Regions from separate parts of the Homo sapiens genome. Here regions 1 and 3 are each linked to region 2. The links come from fine-mapping of genetic effects on gene expression. A gene starts in region 2. Each other region holds a variant in brackets. All regions are shown on one strand. Distances are between the middles of the regions. Region 1 overlaps RBPMS (RNA binding protein, mRNA processing factor). Region 2 holds the start of GTF2E2 (general transcription factor IIE subunit 2). Region 3 overlaps GTF2E2 (general transcription factor IIE subunit 2).

What was found.
Region 1: its variant is fine-mapped to the expression of GTF2E2 in whole blood (TOPMed, PIP 0.97).
Region 3: its variant is fine-mapped to the expression of GTF2E2 in whole blood (TOPMed, PIP above 0.99).

What each region holds. Positions count from the first base shown.
Region 1 is chr8:30,571,938-30,580,118 of GRCh38, forward strand. It overlaps RBPMS (RNA binding protein, mRNA processing factor), which reads left to right. Exons shown (of 9, transcript NM_001008710.3): 9 at 1-319. GTF2E2 (general transcription factor IIE subunit 2) reads right to left here. Exons shown (of 8, transcript NM_002095.6): 8 at 6,381-7,100. The coding sequence ends at 6,984. Among named protein-coding and RNA genes, the nearest start is that of SMIM18, 63 kb to the right of the region's middle. RefSeq lists a silencer at 3,816-3,865. The variant C/G (reference allele first, on the strand shown) is at 4,400.
Region 2 is chr8:30,653,817-30,661,997 of GRCh38, forward strand. GTF2E2 (general transcription factor IIE subunit 2) reads right to left here and starts at 4,420. Exons shown (of 8, transcript NM_002095.6): 1 at 4,157-4,420. RefSeq lists enhancers at 2,949-3,620, 4,292-4,963 and silencers at 4,005-4,094, 4,105-4,514.
Region 3 is chr8:30,628,109-30,636,289 of GRCh38, forward strand. It overlaps GTF2E2 (general transcription factor IIE subunit 2), which reads right to left. Exons shown (of 8, transcript NM_002095.6): 3 at 6,924-7,015. Among named protein-coding and RNA genes, the nearest start is that of SMIM18, 6.4 kb to the right of the region's middle. RefSeq lists an enhancer at 2,235-2,294. The variant C/A (reference allele first, on the strand shown) is at 3,063.

The DNA.
Region 1 (8,181 bases), 82 kb before region 2:
TTTTTGTTTTGTTATTTTCCATTAGAAATATAAAGATGTCAAGAAGCTTTTAAAGGTCAACACAAAAAACCAAGGCCAGGAGTGAGGGGCTCTTTCTTACCGTAAATAAGGGGAAAAGGCAGTTAGCTCAAGGACTTGTGACGGATCCACTTTGGTGTTCAAGGACCTGCTTATGCCCTCAGTGCCAATCGGCTCTTGGTGAGATGACTGTACTCCTAAGGAAAATAGCCACTTCTGCAGTCTATTATGCTTTTATAACTGTTTAAAGGTACTTTTCTATTGTCATTTTTAAAAAATAAAGTGCTTATTCCAGCTGTCACACCATTGCTTGACAAATTCTTTTTTAGCAAGACCAACTACATGTATCCCACACTGCAGACAAGACGCCAGCAGATTTCATTCCCATTGTCAGGCTTCGGCAGAGCTAAGCAAGCATTGGCCATTGAGCTTAGGCACAAAGAGATTAAAGGAGGAAGCAGATACCGGGGAAAGCCAGAGAGTAAGTCTGCAAACGCACAACCACAGTGGCTGGTGACCCACAATGACACCAGAGGCAGAGGGACCTCAAGGGAGGCCCCTCATCTACCTCAGCCTACAAAGCTTGACTCAGGATTATCTGAATTATATTAAAATGTCACTTGGGTTTTCTGCTGACTTAAATATATCTTACGCCAGGCATGGTGGCTCACACCTGTAATCCCAACACTGGGAAACTGAGGCAGGAGGCTTGCTTGATCCCAGGAGTTTGAGACCAGCCTGGACAACACAGCAAGACCCTCAATTTTAACATTAGCCAGGAGTACTAGCACCTGTGGTCCTAGCTACTCGGGGGACCACAGAGGAAAGACAACTTGAGCCCAAGAGGTCGAGGCTGCAGTGAGCCATGACTGCTCCACTGCACTGAAGCCTCGGCAACAGGGCAAGACCCTGACTCCAAAACCATAAAAAATTAAAAAAAAAAAAAAAGTGGAAAACCAGGCACCAATTGCCAAGAGAATCGTGTTTTATATATACTCTCACCTACTCTTTTTTCCCCCCAAAGGAGAAAGAAAGCAAAAAAAAAAAAAAAACATCCAAGCAGTGGCAACAACCACTACTGAGTCTTGCTGGGTACTGAGATGACCCGCAGTGAAGCTCTCACAGCCTGCCTGCAGAAGAGCCTAGCCACCAAACGTAGGTTGTGTCCACTGCCTTCCAACTTACGTAACTGTAGAGGCCAAACGCTTTCCTGGGCCCAGGCTTAGAAGGCCACGCCAGCATGGCTCTCAGGCCCGCCTGATCTGCCTTTGGTCCACCTGTGAGCTCCAACTCATAGGCACCAGAGATTGGCCAAACAGCTAAGGAATGGAGGCTAGTGAGCTCTTAAGGGGTTTTGCTGCCTCGGGACTGCCCGGACTCCATCCCAGCCAGTCACTGGCTGAACACAGTCACCTATGATTTTTTACAGGGGGCCCTGGGATGGATGAGCACCCCAATCTTCCCCATGCTGATGATAGTCATTCATGATGTGCAAGTGACAAGTCTGGATGGTATTTACTAATCTAGTGTGACCTCCAGATATATTTCCACTCACCAGCCAGATACCAGCTTCATTAGGGTCTGTGCGAAGTTACCCTTTTTGTCACTCTATTGAACAGGAAGGAATGCAGTATGTCTTCTGGAATCAAGAACTTGGAATACGAAAAAGGCAGGCTGTTTGCTCTTGCTCCCATGCAAAATGTCCCAATTTGTAGGCTCCAGAAAGATGGTAACTAAGCCCATCTTTTTGTGTGATTACCAAATGAACCCTTGTTAATGTCGAACTGATATAACTATAAAAGTGGCATCTGAAATTAAATACCATGCTTTCCACGTCTATAACAAAATTACAAATTAAAGGAATGTGAAAAGAACCTTGCAGTTCACAAAGTGAACGCTACATTGCCAATTAATCACACCTGGGCTTCAGACTCAGCTGGACCCAGGGCATGCACATGTCTCCACCCTACTTTCATGGACTAGCTTGCAATTGTTATTGCCCCATCCCTGAATTCTGCGTTCCAATACACAAGAATTCTTGGTGTCTGTCAAGATGACATAAAGAAGTAAGGTTTTTTTTAAGGGACGGGGTCTCCAGACTGGAGTGCAGTGGCAGATTCACAGCTCACTTGCAGCCTCGAACTCCTGGACTCAAGCCATCCTCCTGCCTCAGCCTCCTGAGTAGCTGGGACTATAGGCGCGTGCCACCATGTCCAAATTCAACTAGTTGTTTCTGAGCGCTTTGGGCAAGACATGATCTGTGCTAAGAATATGGACAGGTTCCCAAAAGCACTCTCACCCACCCAGATGGAAGGTTCTGGCACACAGTTGCTCTCCTCTCCAACTCTTAAACCATTCTCTCCACACCCTCATGGCATAAAACCTCATGGCATAAAACAACTTTACAGCCTGCATAGAAAACCTAAGAATATTCATTACCAGTGAGGTGTTATTTAAAACACTCATCCTCAATAAATGCCTCTCCTAAAACTCTAATAACTATGATAATGAAAAACTGTATGTTGTCAGCAATTTGATCAAGAGCACTAAATTAGGAAATTTCAATAACTGCCACTGTAAAGCTATCTGTCCCTGCTGTAGAACATCCCAGATGGAACTAATATTAACTCTTGTGTGAACTGGCCTGGCTCCATAGCTACCCAATCCTGAGAGATGCCAGTGTGCTGTGAGAACTAGGCCCCTCTGCAGCTCTCCAACGAACCTGCCACTTACCTCTTCCTGACCCTCAGTTCAAACTCATTCCTATTTGGGGGGCGAGGGAGGAGGGAGCTCTTCCTACAAACCGTAATAATTTGCTGGTAAACATAAACAAAACAGTGAAGGCTTCCATTCTCCACCACTGTTCACATACATCTCACCTATGGACGATCTGAGGGGAAGAGAAAATTCGGGTCCTTGTGTTCCACTTGTCCAGTTGAGAAATTCACGTGGAACTCTGCCCATGGTCGTTAATTCCAAGTTAGGAACTTGGGCCAAATGCTTAAAGTCAACCCAAACTTCTCTTCTGAGCAAAAAGGAAGGCCTAAATGCAATGAGAAATGATGCACGAGTTAAATAAAAGATTTACCTGGACAAAAGAGCACTTTTTAAAACTACAACATAAGCTTTGGCGTGGGGGCTTAGCAGGCACTTCAAAACCTCACAATCACCACCCACGGGACAAACCTGCTCTTGGCGCTTCTAGAGCTGGTCCCGCCTAAATCAGGATATGGTTCACTCAGTTATCCCCTGCTGGCACCCTTCTGTGTTTTCTTTAAAGGAAAGTCTTTGCCTTTTCTCCCTTGACATGCAAGCCCCACGAAGTTGTGGCCAGATGAAAAGTCACTGGGCTTTCACCAGGGTCTCAGAACCACATGGTTAAGTCACACAAATGTGCTGGTCCCATCCCCAACCAGTGGAGTTGGATTAGTCCCCTCCCCATCTGCTGAAGAGCAGGATCCACATTTATTTCTAATGGAAATCCAGGGAAGCAAAATGCACTGTCGTTCTTTACACTGCAGCCAGAGGGGGGCCAACCGTACAGCGCCAGCCAGGGCCGTCTAGCTCTTTGAGTTTCCAGCGGTGCTTCCCCCAACACTCCAGACAGGACAGGGATGGGTGTTCTACGGTCCAGTTAGTCTGAAAAATGGTTTCCAAGAGGTCCTTGGACCATCCCACCACAACTCCCACAGAACACCTTCTCATCTCTCAGGACAAGCCCACAAAAACCACCCTGAGAGACCTCGAACCTGCAGGAAGGTCCAGGAGGGCTGCTCCGCCTCGCTGCAGAAGGCGCGGCACCAGGCTGAGCTTGTCAACAGTCAACCAAACCTTAGAAAACCCCAAATCCTCCCCACAAATGAGTCATCTGAAAGTAAAACCCGTGGCTACAGGGAAGAGACACTGAGTCTCATCCTCTATGCCTCAGAAAATCACTATTAACTAAGAATCAGGGAACTGATAAACCAAATGCCCTCATCCCACAAAACCGTCCACACTGACAATCCCATTCTACTGCTACAGATTTCAAACGGCTCACAGATAAAGACAGGGCTGTCCACTCGCAGTCCCTTGAACGCTGGGGCTGGAAGGAACGGGATGTCCTGCGCTGCCTTTCCACTAAGCCTCTGCTCAACAGGTGTCAAGTGCCACTCTGTCCCCTGGGTCCCACCATCATCTGGCCACATTTACAGGCTGTGACAGCAGCAGCCAAATGTTCGGTTTTTACACTCTGTCCAGGCTTGACTACATTTCCCTTAGCTATCCCCTAAAAGCCTCACATCATGGTGATGAATTATAGATCAAATGCACTCCCGACTGTCATACCCTCTTAACTCACCGAGCCGTGCCATTCCCACGTGCTTCTAAATGGCCAGCAGAG[C/G]CACCAGAAACGGGCAGAGGCGAGAACATGACTTCAACTTGGTGTTTCTGGTGGATATGTTTTCAGACACCCAGAAGAACTGCGAAGAGACAGCTTCTCTGTATAGCATCCCTCGGAGATGCTGCAGACTTGGTTCCAGGCCATCGCAATAAAGCAAATATCACAGTAAAGTGGGTCACACAAATGTTTTGGTTTCCCAGTGCATATTAAAATGTTTATGCTACATGATAGTAGAAAGTGAGCAATAGCATTATGTCTTAAAGAATCCAATTATATACTTTAATTTAAAATATATTATTGCCAAAAAGTGAGCACATGCTGTTGGAAAAACGGCACCAACAGATCTGCTTGAAGCAGGGTTCCCACAAACCTTCAATATGGAAAAGAAACTCCACTGTATCTGTGAAAACACATAAAGCAAGTACAATAAAATGAGGTGTGCCTGTAATATGACCGTCCAACACAAGTAACCTTCCATCAGTGTTCCCACAAACACTGTATCCTCAACATGTCACCCGATGATGCAACCCCAGTACCTTGAGATGGGGTATATGGAGGATTTGCTCTTACATGTAGTAGACTGAGTGGGTCGAGGCTTAACAAAAGAAACTGCAAGTGAATGAGATAAAGCTACGGAATTTTGTTGAGTACAGCAATTTAGTGAGTCACTTCATTTTGCTAGATCTTCATTTCTGAAATGAATTTTAGACAAAATAACTGAAATCAATTATCAGGCCAGCCCACGAAGTACTGCTGAGCACAGGCATTGCTAGAAGTCACAACCAATAACACAACTGGCAGTAAGCGCCTTATCACAGAGATGGAGAACCTGATCACAGAGCCCACGACGGAGGCCCTGATGCCCATCTCCCTGCAAAGCAGATGAGATGTCCAAACTGTACTTCCAGACCTGGCCCATAAAATAAGATGGAGTGTGGAGATCACAAAAGTAGGTACCTACCTGGAGATAAGCTAACTCTAGATTTTTTACAGGAAAGCTAGTTTCATGCCATAAGATATTAAAGCTCTTCCTTACCAGAAAAAAACCTTATACAAAGCAAGACAGGCTGTATTTCCTGTGTTCTAAATTATCGTGGGAACCTCAGTTACATCCTCTCCTGCCATGTTTTGGGGCTTGGAGGTAAGAAAGAGGTAAAGCAAACAGATAACACTGTAAAGGGATGAGAGGTAAGTAGAAAAGAGAAAACAACTGAAAAAGCAAAAAAAGGTTCTTTGTCGTCTGCACAAAGCACTTCCTGCTCTGGGTTTCCATCATGCCTTTTCTGAGAACCAACACCTCGTTTCCTAATCCACTACTATCCCATGCTGTGACGGGAGGACCATGACCACCAGCACAAAGGACCACAGCAGAACATAAACAGTGCAGGTGAGGAAAATGCAAACTTTGCCGTAGAAAGCAGAACCATGTGAATTTCCCGTGAGTCACCCTCACTCTAAAGAACACTCACATATTTGGTAATGGCTCTCATGAGCTGGGCCGGTGACAGAGGGCATCTCCACCAGAACCATCTCCGGTCAGGCCACATGAGGGTGGAGGCATGGTATAGCTGACGTTCAGGTTGACGAGGAGACACTACAAAGGCTTGCCATCCTGGAATTTACCAAACCCAAGAAGCTGGACACTGATACTTTTTTTTTTTTTTTAAGACGGAGTCTCGTTCTGTCACCAGGCTGGAGTGCAGTGGCACGATCTCAGCTCACTGCAACCTCCGCCTCCCGGGTTCAAGTGATTCTCCTGCCTCAGCCTCCCAAGTAGCTAGGAGTACAGGCACATGCCCCAACGCCCAGCTAATTTTTATATTTTTAGTAGAGACAGGGTTTCACCATGTTGGCCGGGATGGTCTCGATCTTTTAACCTCGTGATCCACCTGCCTCAGCCTCCCAAAGTGCTGGGATTACAGGCGTGAGCCAGCTTGCCCGGCTGACACTGACGCTTCTTTTTAAAAGAAAACATTAACAATGACATCCAGCACATCTTTATTGCTCTGCTTGCTAACAAGCAGCACACCTGTGTTCCAGTGGTGAAATCCATGTGCTCAGCAACACAGTGCAGACTGCAGGCTTCATCACATCCCCAGCACGTGACCCATGGAAATCAGAGACTGGAGCTGCTTCCTGCCATTTCCGAGAATGAAAAGAAACAGAATTCACTAACATCTTAAAAATCCTTCTACAGTGATTTTATTATAAATATGTTCTTTTGGAATAAACAAATATTGCATTCAAGACTATGGGCAAACTTGCTCTAAAGTAACAAACGAGGAAGAAAGGAACCAGGAACCATTTAGAAGTGGAGAAAAACACAGCAAAGACACCTGCATGCCACGCTCAGCGCCTTTCTCCCAGGGAGTAACAGAAGGTTAACAGGGAACATCACATTGCCCATGAGCCCATTCTACTCAAATAAGCTTTGAGTTTGGTAATTTGCACTTGTTTTGTAAACTGAACTGCTCCTCTCCTCAGCCGCAAGAAGCAGATAGGAAGACAGTCTTCAGACCCCGAGCATCAGCAAGAACACTCTTGATTGTGTATCTGTAACTCTGTTCCAGGGCAAAACTGTTCCCTATTTGCTGGAAGTAATGTCAGAGTAATCCTTCAGCACTCCAGCCAAGTGTTCGTTATGAGTCTTAAAGCGTCGCTTTTTCTGTGAAGCAGGCTTTTTCCTTCTCTGAATAGGGGCCTAAAGGAAAAGGTAAAAACAATTAGAAACAACAGCTGCTCTGAGGGGTGGTGTGGCCAGGATGTTCTGAGCATGCCCAGATGCCAGTGGCTGAGGATGCCAGGTTCGGACCCTTCTCCTGCTCTGCCACCCAGCAGCACACATGGGGCACAGCACACGCCCTGACCAGACCCCGGGCCTTTGTTCCCCTGAGATGCAGATGCCATCGGGAATGAAGGAGCAGGCACAAAAACCTGCCAAAATGGTTCTAGGCACTAAGTCAAACAAAAGGGACGATGAAGCCCTTCAGCTCTGTCTCTGTCATCAGGTTTAAAAACGTATCCACCATTACCGATTTTAAAAAGATCTGAAGAAAATATGGCAAAATCCTGAGAAAGGAGGAGCACATGAAGGTCTGTAATATTCTCTATTCTTTTCTATATACTTGAAATATTAGCATCACATGATGAAAAAAATTAACAAATGAGACAATAATAGGAAATCATGAAGGGCTGCAATTACACTCATTTGTGGAAAGAGATTGACAATAAAGCTTCCCTTTAGGTGAGTCCTAAAAATTCACCAAACACACATGCCCACCCCACACCCCAGAAAGACACAGGTGACAAGCTATGAAGCATGACGGTGGATAAGGAAAGGGGGGAGGAGCACAGCACTGCTAACAAGGGTGCTGGTGAATCATCCCCCCGGGCTTTGTTCTTAGACTACAGATTTTATTTGCTGGTGCAAGGCAATGTAAAAGTCATCATTTAATTACTAACATCCCCTGTGAGCAGGATTTAGAGACTATACGGACAAAAATATCTGGTTCCTAGAGGACCTGAAAGTTACTATGGCAGAACCAGGCACCAGGACGGCGAGGCTCACGGAGCAGGGGAGGGCCCCGTTCAAGTCTGAAAGGTTGTGCAGATCAAGGCACAGCATCCCTTTAAGAATAGGGAGAAGGGCTTGTAGCAGCTTAGAGTGGGAGAGTGGGGAACACACAGGCCCTGGAAGGTTCCATATGGCTATACCTCAAGAGCAGGACTGCTTGGGAGGAGCTGGGTGTAGAAAGGCACTCACAGGCCTGGAGCAGCACCGA
Region 2 (8,181 bases):
AGAGGCCAGGCATAGTGGCTGAAGCACTTTGGGAAGCCGAGGTGGGCAGACTGCCTGAGCCCAGGAGTTGGAGACCAGCCTGGACAACATGGTAATACCTCCTGTCTACAAAAATACAAAAAATCAGGCAGGCATGGTGATGTGTGCTTACAGTCCCAGCTACTCGGGAGGCGGAAGTGGGAGGATCACTTCAGCCTGGAAGGTCAAGGCTGCAGTGAGCTGTGATAATGCCACTGCACTCTAGCCTGGGTGACAGACCAAGACCCTTGTTCAAAAAAAAAAAAAAAAAAGAAAGAAAGAAAAGAAACAGAATTATTCCCTAAAGTTCCAGAACTGTGCTGTCCAATATATTAGCCACTAGCCACATGTGCCTATTAAACATGTGAAATGTGGCTAGTTAAAATTGAGATGGACTTTCAAGTGTAAAAACCCACAAGATTTCAAAGATTTAGTATAAAGAAAAAAACTATTTAATTACTAACGAGATATTTTACATTAATTACATGTTGAAGTGATACTATTTTGAATATACTGGGTTAAATAAAATGTTAAAATTAATTTCACCAATTTTTCTTTTAAAATATGGCTATTAAAAAAAAATTAAGAGACAGTGTCTCACTGTGTTGCCCAGGCTGGAGTACAGTGGTGTGATCATAGCTCAATGTAGCCTTGAACTCCTGGGCTCAAGCAATCCTCCCACCTCAGCCTCCTGACTAGCTAGTACTACAGGTACACGCCACCACACACAGTTAATTTTTTTAAAAACTTTTTAGAGACAAGGTCTTGCTATGTTGCCCAGGCTGGTCTTGAACTCCTGGCCTCAAGCAATCCTCCTACCTCAGTCTCCCAAAGCACTAGGATTACAAACATGAGCCACTGCACCCAGCCTAGAATATTTTTAATTACACGTGTGGCTCACACTTCCCACTCCCATTATATTTCTATTGGACAACACTGCTGTAGAAACATGAGGACTACAGGGCAGAAATTAGAAGAAGGTGGATTTAGGCTCACTGCAAAAAAAGAGAACCATCAGAACTGCTTATACATAAAATGGCATATTTTTACAACTGGTGAACTCTCAATTATTAAGTGATGAAGAGGCTGAATTATTATACTATTTGTTAGAAATGTCTACAGAGAGCCGGGCACAGTGGCTCATGTCTGTAATCCCAGCACTTTGGGAGGCTGAGAGACCAGCCTGGGCAACATAGTGAAACCCTATCTCTACGAAATTAGCCAGTCATAGTGACACATACGTGTAGTCCGGGCTACTCAGAACGCTGAGACACGAGAACTGTTTGAGTCCAGCAGAGGTTGCAGTAAGCTGAGATCCCGCCACTGCCCTCCAGCCTGGGGGATACAGCAAAACTCTGTCTCAAAAAAAAAAAAAAAGTCTACAGAAAATTTCCAATTTGGAGGGAGGTGGTTTGAGGCAACTTCTATGTTGTGGTTGTTGTTTGTCTAGTTCTAAAATTACAACTCAAAGCAATTTCACTACAACCAGGGAAGCTACAGGTCAACCAACAAGAATTCTAAACACACCTCTCTTCTGAACTCTGCTAGAACCCTACAGAGGGTCTATGAAGACCTCAAGCTGACTATATAAATGAATTTGACACTGTTAAGACTAGTGTCAGCTGGGAGGAAAAAGACTCATACTTTGAAAGCTTTTAAGCACAGATAGCTCAATAAATATTTGTTAAATGAACAACACATGGAACATCATCTTTAAATTGCTCTGGTCCCATTATTACTGGTTTCACAAGCCTTTATTAAATATCTTGTTTGTGAGGCACTGTGCTCTAAGCTTTGAAAGGTTACGGAAGATAAATCCTTGTCTACATGCTGCTTAGATTTGAGAAAATGGAAGCATTGAGCTAAAAATTTTAAATATAAGCATTGATAAGAAATAATCAGACTGAATTTCAATTAAGGCGTGAACAATCACTGGACGGTGAATCAAAAACCTGCCTTCTCTCAGTTTCAATTTTTTTTTCTTTTTTTTTGAGACAGAGTCTCGCTCTGCCGCCCAGGCTGGCAGAGTGCAGTGGTGCAATCTCGGCTCAATGCAACCTCCGCCTCCTGGGCTCAAGCGATTCTCCTGGCTCAGCCTCCCGAGTAGCTGGGACTACAGGCGCGCAGCACCACGCCCCGCCAATGTCTGTATTTTTAGTAGAGACGGGGTTCATTCACCATGTTGGCCAAGCTGATCTTGAACTCCTGACCTCAAGTGATCCGCCCACCTCAGCCTCCCAAAGTGCTTAGATTACAGGCGTGAGTCACCGCACCCGGCCTCAGTTTCAATTCCTAAAGCCACCTGGCTAGGCAACCCACAAGGCCTCTACATTCAATTTCATAAGTGAAATGAGGACGCTATGAAAGCTGTCCACATCCAGCCCAATTGTAAGAATGAGAAAATGTGTATGTTATTTTTTAAACAGTAAAGTCATAAAAACGTGTTATTTCAGTATTACTATTTTGAGTTGGATCTGAAAGAAGGGAATGATTTACCGGGCTGAGGAAAGTAGGAGACAGCCTTGGGAGGAGGGAAAGCGTGGGGCCAAGAAGAAGAAAGGAGAATTGTCAAGTGAGAAGGTGGGAGCAAAAAGTAAATTTCTAGAACAGGAAACATTTGTGTCTTATTTCACGTTGCAAAGGCAGGACCTCAATCTGGACTTTAAAAAAATTACTCTAAAAGATTTAAATAGGCCGGGCGCAGCGGCTCACGCCTGTAATCCCAGCACTTTGGGAGGCCGAGGAGGGCGGATCACGAGGTCAGGAGTTCTAGACGAGTCTGGCCAACATGGTGAAACTCCGTCTCCATTAAAAATTTAAAAAATGTGCAGGGTGTCGTTGCGGGTGCCTGTAATCCCAACTACTTGGGAGGCTGAGGCAGGAGAATCGCTTGAACCAGGGACGTGGAGCTTGCAGTAAGCCAAGATCGCGCCACTGCACTCCAGCCCGGGCGACAGTGCGAGACTCCGTCTCAGAAAAAAAAAAAAAAAAAAGTAAATAAAGCCGTACAGTTTACAACAAACTAAATGCTTACAGTATTTGACCCTCGCAACTCTAGGAGCAAACAGGTATTAGTGTTATTCCTATTTTAATACGTGAAATCTGAAGTGAAGCTGTCTGGTTAAGGTCGCACAGATGGAAGAGCCAGGGCCAGGAACCAAACCTCCTGACTCCTAACTCAAGTGCTCCTTACACCAGACCTGGAACGCTGGTAAAGGCCTTTAAAACAAAGGCCACCTGTGAGGTTCGGGAACGTTCAAAGGCATCTAGAGCAGAAAGCTTCGCAATGTCTGTCTTTCACCATCACGTGCTCCGCCTAACTTTTCCTCCTTTTTCAAAGACTACCCAATATGTGTACTAAGTTTTAGATCTCTGGACCCCCCTATGGAGTAAACAGGCTACATCACCATGTCCATTTTACAATTAAACAAAACCACAACTCAAGGAGTTGGCTGGTTCCTCCGTGGGCAGACACGGAAAACCCAAAAATTAAACTGAAATCTGCCTCCAAGCCCACGATTCTTGCCACCATTCGACCTCTTTCAACCTTACTACTTCCCCTCTCTTTCACTTTTACCCAGCCTCGTTAGTGTCCCTGGCACCTCAGGACCCGGCTATGAAAAGCAGGCTGCTTCGCCCTTAAATGACGGAAGTGGGGAGGTGGGCGAAAAGGGGGCCGCAGCGTTGTTTAGACTGCAGAAATCAACTACTATCGTTAAAGTTTAGGGATCATCACAAACCAAATCTCCAAAAGGTAGCCTAGAAAGCAGTCCGCGTATGAGCATCATTTTAAATCACAGTCTTGAGCTGGCTGGACCCCGCGGCTGCTCAAACTCCACACACGGTTCGCTTGGCTACCGCGCCCGTGAACTTGGAGGCTTGGAAGAGGCACAGTCAGGCGGCAGACCGCGAATTTTCCCTCTTTCCAACCCAAAAGTTTGCTCAATGAACCTCTGGCCTAAAGACAATGCTCCGGGGAACGGTTCGCGTGCTGGGTGTTTCGCTTCGAGAACGGCGGTCCCAGCTTCCCGTGAGGTGGAGGTCACGCTCAGCCTCCCGGGAGGCGGCGGCGCGCCTGCGTCCCAGGGAACAGCAAGCCGGGGCTCTGCGCCCCACACCCGGCGGCCGCAGCCCCTACCTGAGTGAGAAGGGCAGCCTCGCACGACTCGCCGCCCCCTTCCTGCGCCTCCGCCTCGGCCGGCCGCCCACGCCGGCACTGCACCCTCTTCCTGCTTCTCGTCAGCGCCCCCGCCTGCCCGCACGCACGCCCAGCGCTGACCCGCCAGGTCGGGGTCTCACCACTGGCGGTGGCGGCGGCGGCGGCGGCAGCGGCGGTAGCTGAGGCGGCGACTGGACCCGGGACTCCGCCCGCCACTTCCCGATCGGGTGCTAGGAGCTCAGTCCCGGCAGCCACCGCGGCGCCAGGGCAGCCAAGCGAGCGCATGCGTCATTGCGTGCCCCGCCTCTGGTGCCGCGGGAGCGGAACTATCCCGCTCTGGCGTCCTGGGGCCTCCATGACAACGAGGGAAGGGCTGGGGTGGGGCCGAGAAGGGGACTGAAGTGGGAGGCGGCGCCACTGAAGATGGAAGGCAGCTTTCTTTATAGACACTTTATTAAAACTGCTACAGCCTGCTCCGGCGTGCGCTGGGATGTGGTGAACCCAGCCGACGACGCTATCTTTCAATGGTTACTTTGTGTTTTTTGTCTTTTTCTTATTAGAGACGTGATCTCACTCGGTCACCCAGGCTGGAGGGCAGTGGCGCGATCTCGGCTCACTGCAACCTCCGCTCCTGGGCTCAAGCCATTCTCCCACCTCAGCCTCCGGAGTAGCTGGGATCACAGGCGAGTGCCACCACGACGGACTATTTTTGGTTATTATTGTTGTTGTTGTTTGTATTAATAGGGTCTCACAATGTTGCCCAGGCTGGTCTCGAACTCCTGAATTCAAGCGATTTGCCCGCCTCGTCTTCCCAAAGTGCTGGGATTACAGGCGTGAGCCACCGCGCCCGGCCTCAACGGTTATTTTGTGAGTTTACCCCAGCGCCACACACCAGCACCTGCACACCGAGAACGCGGTTCCAGCTCTTTTACAAGCGAAGAACAGAGGGCCAGGAAGCTAATTAATAAATGACTTGCTCAAGACAACACAGCTAGCAAAGGCAGCCTGATGTGGAGCACAGCCCAGCCTCTTCCCTCCACCCCTGTGAACTGTCTTAGAAAAGGATTTTGGATTTAGAAGCCAGATAAATGGGTGGAAATAAAGCAGTGGAAAAAATAATTTCATTGCCCGAAACCTGCAGCGTGGCAGGCCTTCCCTCACTCTTATAACCTAAAGCGGCAGTACAGCCAGTGCTCAGCCATTCTGTGGCTGTCGTTGAATTACTGGTTACTCTTCAAGTTACTGAAACTGTGGCTCAGTTTTCTCATCGGGGAAATGGGGATAATCATTGTACTACTACAATGAGTTACTTGCATTGGACTGTGGTGAAAATTAAGTGAGAAAATACCTAAAATTTTATTCAAAACTTGGAAAAAAGTCAAAAGATAATATTTTGTGACTTTTATTAGTTTCATTCTAGAGAATTTTGTAATAAGCCTACTTGATCATCTGACACCCACAGGAAATGTAACTTTGTTTGAATAACAATTGATTAGGGCCCAGAAGATTTACAAAAGGATGAAATCAAACATCAATTGGTAGGAAACTGATGAGGTGTTAGGGGAAAAAGGGGCAGGGAATTCAGTGTGTATATAGATAGATAGATAGATAGATAGATAGATAGATAGATAGATAGATAGATAAAATTCCAAAGGTTAAGGTTGCATTTTTCTGAGAAAAATTAACCGGTTTTGTATCAACTGAGCAGTTTTATTTCAGCATTCCTTTCCCCAACGATTATATAAATATCATTTTTCAGAACTGGTAGAAATCCGTTTTATGATTCTGCTGGCTCCCTTATTAATGAGTGAGAGACTTATACATATGGACAATGGCTAAACCGCATATGATAATAACACTCTAACTCACATAAGCCAAACCATAACCTCTACAGCAATCAGCTCAAAATGGTCAGAATTTTCTCAAGAAGGCTGCCAACTTTTCTATTTTAACCTCTCTGTCCTCAGACACCAGTATCAGCCAGAGAAAGCCAAATATTCTTCCCAAACCAATCCTGTTAAGTTTCCTGCTTCAAGTTAGACAACTTCCAGCTTCCCCTGCCAACATCCCTAAATCAGAACACATCAGAAGCATCCCTTTTTTCCTCCACTGTAAAGTCTCCCCTCTTCCCGATTGCTTTTGAGTCTCTGCCAAACTCAAGTGTGGTCGCTGCCCCTATTGCTATAGCAAGCTCTGAATAGTCTCTGTTCTCACTTGGCAGGTCTACATTTCTTGCGTTAAATAAAACTTTGACACATATTCACTATCTCTTCCCTTGAGACTTAGAAATCTAACAATTAGAGAATCTTTACAGAATTAAATCTTTCACAAAGAAGGTGCTCAATAAACGCTTACAGTGAGTAATTTCATGTCAATATCTTGACTCATTTCAGCCAGTTGAAACAGCTAAGCTACTAATAATATCAGAATGTACTATCTATAATCCAGACTCTCAAATCTCAATTGTGTCCCCTTTACCCAGAAGTTAGCTCTTGTTATTAATATCATTGAAACCCTCTCATACAAACCCCAGGAAACCTTATTACATTACAAACTCCTGCTTATACTGCCTGTTGCATGTGTCTAGGTCTTAACACTGAAAGCAATGGCTTCATTCATTCTGAGGCAGGAGAATAGGGTCTGGAAGCAGAGAACCTAAGGCCAATTCACGCTGACTCCCTAGAAAGAGCTAAATCAAAAGGAAAACCCTAATTTTCCACACCCAAGTAACAAAAGGACCAGAGGCTGCTCCCTTTGCAACCCCTCACCCCCATTTTTCTGCCTGGCAGATGAAAAATTGAAAGTACCTCTGGCCGGCCGTGGTGGCTCATGCCTGTAATCCCAGCACTTTGGGAGGCCGAGGCAGGCGGATCACTTGAGGTCAGGAGTTCAAGACCAGGCTGGCCAACATGGTGAAACTCCGTCTCTACTAAAAAATACAAAAATTAGTGTGTGGTGGCGGGCACCTGTAATCCCAGCTACTCAGGAGGGTGAGGCAGGAGAATCACTTGAACCGGGGAGTCAGAGGTTGCAGTGAGCCGAGATCGTGCCCCTACACTCCAGCCTGGGTGACAGAGCAAGACTCCATCTCAAAAAAGAAAGCAAAAAACCTCTAACAGAGAGCCAAACCCCATCACTGCACACACACACACACACTCTCTCTCTCTCTCTCACACACACACACACACACACACACACATATGTAGACTTTCCCCAGGTAGTTATTGGCCAGGATGGAGTCACATACCTCATCTAAACCAATCAATCCCCATGAAAGGGAAAGAAACTACCGTGACAACCTGAAACAAATTTTGATTCACCTTTCTGGAGATGGGGAGGGAGTAGCCTACCTCGAACACATGAGTGAGCAAAGAGTGAACTCACATCTTTAAAAAGTTGGGACCAAACTAGCTTCTTACCTTGCAGAAACAAATAAGAAGTCGTTCCATAATTCAAACTTTCTTTCAAGTTTTCTCTTTGATAACCGTCATATCTTAGCATGCAATACTAGGTGTTTATGATCAACTTCCATAATAATTATCATAATAAAGAAAATAATTTCTCATAACATTTATGTATTTCATGATTTTTGCTACATCAGTGTATTAGAGTTTTCCAGAGAAATAGCAAATAGGATATGTGTGTGTGCGTGTGTGTAGACAGAAGGAGAGAGAGACCGAGAGAGGAAAAAAAAGAAATAGAGACAGAGTTAGAGAGGGATGTATTTATTTATCATTTAAGACACAGTCTCACTCTGTCACCCAGACTGGAGTGCAATAGCACGTTCTCAGCTCTCTGCAACCTCCACCTCACAGGTTCAAGCAATTCTCCTGTCTCAGCCTCCTGAGTAGCTGGAATTACAGGTGCGCACTACCACACCTGGCTAATTTTTGTATTTTTAGTAGAGACGGGGTTTCACCATGTTGGCCAGGCTGGTCTTGAACTCCTGACCTCAAGTGATCTGCCTGCCTTGGCCTCCCAAAGTGCTGCAATTACAGGCGTGA
Region 3 (8,181 bases), 26 kb before region 2:
AAACACAAAATTAAACAGTACTTTCTCCCTCTTTCAACACAAATGTGAACCTGGGTGAAGGTTCCTTTCTTATCCCAAGCTTCTGCCCAACTGAGAACAAGTAAGTTGCCTACTTTGATCAGGTGAGAAAAGAAATCAAGTAGAAAATTTTAAAAAAGAAAAAAACTGAGGTTTCCTCTGCCTATACTACTGACTTGCACAAGAGTGGAGATCCTTCCTGGGGAGTAGGGAGCAACCACACACACAAAGAGCAGGCTAATAAGCTGGGCGAAATAAATGCAAAGACAAAAATATTCTCCTGTCAAAAGAGCACTGACAATTATTATTAACTTATCATGTCCACAACTTACTGATTAGGTTAATAAATGTGAACTCGGAGGTATAGCAATTCTTTGCATGGGTTCTCTGAGACCTGAAAATTATTTCAAGGGTTCCTCCAGAGTAAGAAGATTGAGAAAGGCTGCTCTATTGCATTGAGGAACTTTGCCTCTACTAATTTGCTGCAAGTTTTTATAATAAATTGGTATTAAATTTTACCAGAGGCTGGGCATGTTGGCTCACGCCTGTAATCCCAGCATTTTGAGAGGCCGAGGCAGGCAGATCACGAAGTTAGGAGATCAAGCCCATCCTGGCTAACACGGTGAAACCTCATCTCTACTAAAAATACAAAAAATTAGCCGGGTGTGGTGGCACACGCCTGTAATCCCAGCTACTTAGGAGGCTGAGGCAGGAGAATCGCTTGAACCCGGGAGGCGGAGGTTACGGTAAGCTGAGACAGTGCCACTGCACTCCAGCCTGGGCAAGAGAGTGAGACTCCGTCTCAAAAAAAAAAAAAAAAAATTTTACCAGCAACTTTTTCTATATCCACTAAGAGATCATGATTTTTCTTTATTCTGTTAATATAACTTACACTAATTAATTTTCAAATATTAACCACTCATACATTCCTAAACTTTACTCCATCACAATGTATTATCAGATCTATGGACATATATATTCATATCTTATATTTGAACAGATTAAATTGGTTCATATATTTTAAAAAATTTTTATACCTGTATTTAGTAGAGATATTGTCATATAATTTAAATACTTTTATTTAAAACTGGAAATAGATCCATATTCTTGACCCAGTCCTACTATGGACCAGAACTGTGTCTATGAGCCAGTCATTTAATGTCTATGGACTCCAGAGTTTCTAAATTCAAAAATAATTGTCAGAAGTAATTCAGACAGAAGTTAGGCCAGTGATTCTCAAACTTCAGCATGTATCACAATCACTTGAAGGGCTTTTTTAAAAACAGACTGTTGCTCACGCCTGTAATCCCAGCACTTTGGGAGGCTGAGACGGGCAGATCACAAGGTCAGGAGATCCAGACCATCCTGGCTAACACGGTGAAACCCCGTCTCTACTAAAAAAATACAAAAAAATTAGCCAGGCGTGGTGGCAGGCGCCTGTAGTCCCAGCTCCTCGGGAGGCTAAGGCAGGAGAATGGCGTGAACCCAGGAGGTAGAGCTTGCAATGAGCCAAGATCGCACCACTGCACTCCAGCCTGGGTGACAGAGCAAGATTCCATCTCAAAAAAAAAAAAAAAAAAAAAGACTGTTGAGCTATACTCCCAGAGTTTCAAATTCAATAGGTCTGGAAAGGGGCCCAAGAATTTGCATTTCTAACAAGTTCCCAGGTGATGCTGATACTGCTGGCTGGAGAATGACACTGGAGAAACACTAAGCTAGAATAAGCCAAATTAACCCAGATTTTTCAACATAGTGTTTTACATAACCGAGACATAAGGAATAATGCTGAAATCAAGAGAAAAATCATTTTATCAAAAATAAAGTACACACTTAATTTGTCATCTGAGAATTAAAGTGCTGTCTCATATGAAGAAAGAGGCATCCTAAGGGGATTTTCGAGATAACTTGGAGTGCTTTTAAAACTTACTCCTTTAAGCAATAAAATTTGTTTTACATTAACCATTTCTGTAAAAATCCTCCTAAAATAAACCATAAAGTTCCTCTTTCATCTTAACCAGGTCACTGAACATAATTTAATCTTTTTTGATGTCTCAGTTACTGTTCCAACGTAAATTACTGAGCTATGGTATGATAGTAACCATCTCAGGAGCTGGTGAGATGAGGTGGGCAGTTTGTCCCCTCCACTGCATGTTCTCAGTATTATGACTCTGAAGTTCCTGTATCTGCCTTTCATCTTTCTATTTAGTACTTTGTCCAAAGTTATGACTATCTGCTATAAATCTCACTGTACCTATCTAATGCCTCCCCTGGAACTTTTTCCACAGTTTCTAAATCATTCTTATTAAGCAATTAAACAGTTTCCCTATTAAATGAATCAACTATAAGGAGCATTTCTGTTGCCTTTCTTTTGCTTTCTTTCTAAAGGTACACAAAAGACAGTGGGAGACTTTCCAAGAATCTGTTTACAGATACCTTCCAAATGTACTTCTTCCCTTTCAAAATAAGCCCTTCTCTTTACCTTCCACCTCCCCCCGCCATGAAAAAGTAATCTCACCTCCATTCAGAATTTGTGATGCAGAGCCTGAAGGAATAATAAACTCCAGGGACCCAAACAAACAGACAAGCCAAAAAAATGGTTTCAGGGAAGCATTCGTGAATGGTAACTGAGGTGCCGTAAACTATCCATTACTGGGCTTCTTGTCTTTTCCAGTCACATATTTTTCAAAGAGTTTAAAATATTTTGGCCCCTGCTGGAACATTCTAATCTATCATAATCTGTGAGCAATTGTTTAAAGTTTCCTCTAACAACCATTCCCCCTACACCCCCACCTCCATTCAGTATTGTCCAAGAACGCATTGCTCTTAGGGGACAGTATGATAAAAGTAATGCACAGAGAACACTGGTTAAAAAAAAGATAAAAAGAAATATTTTTTTCAAGAATTCTTATTTTTTTATTAGCGACAAGGTCTCAATGTGTCGCCCAGGCTGGAGTACAGTGGTGCAATCTTGGCTCATTGCAACTTCCACCTCCCAGGCTCATGTGATTCTCAGCCTCTAAAGTAGCTGCGGTTACAGGCATGTG[C/A]CAACACACCTGGTTAATTTCTTTTTGTATTTTTAGTAGAGACGGGGTTTCACCATGTTGGCCAGGCTGGTCTCAAACTCAAGTGATCCACCTGCCTCAGCCTCCCAAAGCGCTGAGAATACAGGTGTGAGCCACTGTGCTGGGCCGAGAATTTAAATATAAGTAATTCTCAAAACTCATTCCCTGAATATTTATTAGCTTGAAGAAAAAGCATATTTAGAGAGCTGGAACAATATCAATTAGGGAGGCTGATTCCTTTAAATATAAAAGAAATACTTTCTAGGACTGCCAAGTCATTCAAATTGTGCTATATAAAAGCTGTATAGAAATTACTTTAGATTGAGTGTGCATTACTCAATATGGTAGTTAAAATCTATTTTGTCAAATCGTATCATTAAAGTTTTATTCTAATTAGTCAATTCTCATTATAGTTTTTCAACAGTTTAATATTTCTACCTTCTACTGACAAAAAATAAGATATGCTAGCTGTCATACTGAGTAGTTTGAAGCAGTAGGTATCTCTTTCATTAATTACCCAAATAAAAATGTAAGGTTACTTCTGATTCATTCCCTTTTATTTATACCTAATAGCTGAGATCAGAGATCAGAAGATGCAGGAACACACATTTAAAAAGGAGTAACAGGCCAGGTCTAGTGGCTCACGCCTGTAATCCCAGCACTTCAGGAGGCTGAGGCAGGCGGATCACTTGAGGGATCCCCTGAGCCCAGGAGTTCAAGACCAAGCTGGGCAACACTGAGAGACCCTGTCTCTACAAAAAAAATACAAAAATTAGCCAGGCATGGTGGCACGTGCCTGTAGTCCCAGTTACTTGGGAGGTTGAGGTGGGAGGATCACTTGAGGCTAGGAGATCGAGGCTGCAGTGAGCCAGGATGGTGCCAATGCACTCTAGCCTAGGTGACAGAGTTAAGACCCTGTCTCAAAAACAAATAAATAAATAAAGGAATAACACAACTTTTATCATATCCCTTGCTTCATATTTTAACTGATTTAATTTTTAATCTAACATGACAAGCAGCGCAGAAATGTTTAAATTATTACAAAAATTGACAAATTACTGTAATTCTTTTTCAGTCATATAATTTTCAGCTCAAATACCTTAGCAGTATCTTTTAGTATGCATTCCATAATTTATTCCTCAGTGGTTTTCATATTATCCAAAATATCTGGTAATCTATTTATTTGAAATTTAAAATAGAGGAAAATTTTATGATTCAAAGCAAGTTTGTTATGGCTAGTTGGTTTGACAATGGAGACTGGCTTTGTTAACTAGGAGATATTTTCTAAAAATTGAATAAGCTAAACCTTCATACTAAAAGTTTTCACAAAAATATATTTTAAACACATAAAACAATTATAATAAAAATTCACAAAGCTATATTAAAATTAACAGTATTTCTATTTTCTCAACTGCTTCTGAATATATCAGATTTTAAAGAAAGTACCTATGAAGGGAGGGAGGGGAACTGATATAAGACATTTGATAAGCCTTTTTGATATGCTTCCTAGAAGCTAAGAAAATAAATGGTTAAGCACTAGGTAACAAATCCTTTGGCAAGTTGGGTGGTTTCCATTCTTTTGCTTTCAATAAAACTGAAGGAGGACCTAACAGAAGCATTAACTAATGGATGCTTGATGATAAAATCACTAGTGATTTTTGACATATAACTTGGAAGATTCTGATATCACAAAATTTCCATTAGAATTAACTTATATATTTGAACATTTATGTCTAAGCACTTAAATTCTACAAAATCTCAAAACACGAACAGATTTGCCAAACACAAGAACTAATGAAGGAAGAGAGGAGACAGCTGCATTCATTTAAGAATAAATTTCTGATACAAAGTGAATTTAATCAAAATTTTAATCTATGTATGTTATTCTAATCAACTGTGCACCAATAATTGTAAAAATAACTCAAACCGTAAGTTATTTTTAACACTTAGAGCTTTACGGTCATAGGAAAAACATTTTAAATTTTGATTTATATTTCAATTTATTTACATATTATTGTGGCAGAAAAGTTTGATAGATGATCAATAAATGATTTGAAAGATAAAAATACATAACATTTGGATAAAATTCAAAGGGAGTAACAGATGGGACACAAATATTCAAAGAAAAAATAATTAAAATTCCCAATCATTAAGGGAGTTTGTTTTTATACTTTTAAATAATGACATTTAGATTCCATTAGATAAATTTAAAAGTGATATATTTTATTGAAATACTACAATATGCCAGAAATTCTGTATTTCTGGTCATCATTTAAATTTTTGCTTGAATAGTGCCACTATTTAAACTTTGCTAACAGAGTGTAGTTATCAACTTAAATATGTACAAAGGGGTACACAGTTTTTCAAACTGTAGGGAGCACAAGTAAAAATTCTGAAGTTCACTGTTCTAAGACAGACAAAGTTATAAGTAAGCCACATAGGGAAGTGAAGACCATATTAACAGAGTAGCAAAAACATGACACTTAAATGTCAGTGTCCCTCAACAGAGTGACAGCCCTGAGGGTGGCATTTTTTTCTGGGTATTCCCACCATTAGTGCCCTAAACAGCCAATAGATTTTCATAACTGCTTACCATGTGGGGGAATAAATGGATGAAATGAATCAACAGTGAATACTTACGTGTCAAAATACATTATTTAATAATGGGGAGTTATATACTAACATATTTATACTATAACCCAAATACAAACCACAGAATTTAGACTCAGCTAGACACTAAGTCTATTAAATTACAAAAGAAAAGCCTTAGCACAGTTAAAAATCTGATTTATATTTTAACCAATAGATGGATGAAATTAAAATAACAAATATAGTACTGTCTTTTTCAAGAGATGCAACTAGTAACTAATCGTGAATAAGAGTTTGGCAAAAGAAGGGAGCAAATTTGAAATTACTTAGCCATCTTAGCTAAAAATGAAATCCCGCTTTAATAAATTTAGTTAAGATTCAAAGTCTTGGTCAGGCATAGTGGCTCATGCCTGAAAGCCAAACACTTTGGGAGACCGAGGTGGGAAAATCACATGAGCTTAGGAGTTCGAGACCAGCCTGGACAACACAGTGAGACTTCGTCTCTTCTAAAAATAAGAAAATTAGCCAGGCATGGTGGTGCATGCCTGTAGTCCCAGCTACTTGGGAGGCTGAGGCAGGAGGATCACTTGACCACAGGAGTTCAAGGCTGCAGTGAGCTACGATCGTGCCACTGCACTCCAGCCTGGGTAACGGAGCAAGACTGTCTCAAAAAAAAAGAAAAGGGAAAAAAAAAGATTCAAAGTAAAGCCAAAATCTTATATGATCAAAACTTTGTATTCAAAAAATACTAAACCTTCCATCAAACATTAAATTCTAATTCTTTTGTGAGTCAATGTTTTTCTAAGACTCTCAGTAAATGTCTAATTTTCTCCTCCAAGATGCAGAGAAGCCATCACCATCATCTGCCTGAACTATGTACTTTTTACTTCTCACATCAATGGAAGTAATAACCTGAAAAATCAATCACATCCTCCCATTGGTTTTGCCAGCCTGTATTCATTAAGAGGTGATATACCTACTGCCTAGGCACACTCTTATTAAGTGAAATGGTGAGCTTAAACTGTACCCTTGAGTTAATGCAGATTAAATATGCTTTGGTAACTCGCCACAATGCCAAATTAATACAATGTAAAAGGCTTGAGGTATAATTGGCATACAATAAACTGCACATACTGAAAATGCACAATTTTGATAAATTTTGATGTATACAGAAATTTAACTTCTGAAAACCCTAATCTCCTTCTTTTGCCAAAAAGTTAAATAGGACTTTTGCTATCTGAGAAAAGTACTTACCTTCATGTAATTCACAATCTTAGCAAGAACACCAAACTTATATCCAGAGCTTCCTGACAAAGCTTTCAAGTTAAATGATCCATTGCTATGATCTGCAAATGAAGTTCAAAATAACATCGTCATATTATGTGTGATTATGACTCTTGAGCAGCTAAAATAATTTTAATGCTGGTAACATATTTCTTGAGTTTTTCATCTAGTATATTCTACCCTGTAATATTCTGGTGAAAAATACACAATCTTTGAGTATATACATTAAAGTACCAATTTTCTCACTAAGGGTAGAAACAAAGTATAAATAACTTAAAACACCAAACCACAATTCTTTTATAAATATCTTTATCACATTATTTTTTATTATATTTTTTGAGACAGGGTCGCATTCCCATTGCCCAGGCTGAAGTTCAATGGCACAATCACAGCTCACTACACCCTCAACTTCCCAGGCTCAGGTGATTCTCCCACCTCAGCCTTCTGAGAGGCTGGGACTACAGGTGCACACCACCATGCCTGGCTAATTTTTTTATTTTTTGTAGAGATGGGGTTTCGCCATGTTGCCCAGGCTGGTCTCAAACTCCTGGACTCAAGAGATTCACCCATCTCAGCCTCCCAAAGTGCTGGGGTTACAGGTGTGAGCTACTGCACCAGGCCCCTTTCTCCTTTATCTCATTCTTATCTTAACTCTGATTAGACTCGCTCCATAATCAGAAGTACACTTTATTAAACAAGGAAACAATACAAACCTCAATCCCATCCATAAAGCTAACACAAGGAGTGGATTACTTCTGAGGGAAGAAAAGTTCAATATACCACTTTTTACATCAATTTCTGCTTACCAATTTAAGACCAAAAAAATAGGAATTAATGGAAACTAATAGAAAAAAGATATCACAATTATTTTAAAGTAAACTTTACAGATAAATTAGGAATAAAAAGCCACAGGCACTGCCACTGCATGAACATGGATGCTTACTTTAAAAAGCATCACAGCACTACCCACCCACTTTGAGAAACACCCCCCTCTCCTTCTCTATCTGGTGTGGAAAACCCTGTACAAAAGATCATTTGTTTCAAAATATCTATCATTTTGTTGCATTCTTACAAGCAGAAACCCTAATGTCACCACTGCATCACAAATGCATTCCATTAGTCATAACCAGGAACAGTAAAAAATCCATCATAAATACTAGAAAAACATTTTAGAAGTACACATTCTATTAGCAAGGCATGAGATCAGATATTATAAAGTTCCCATGTG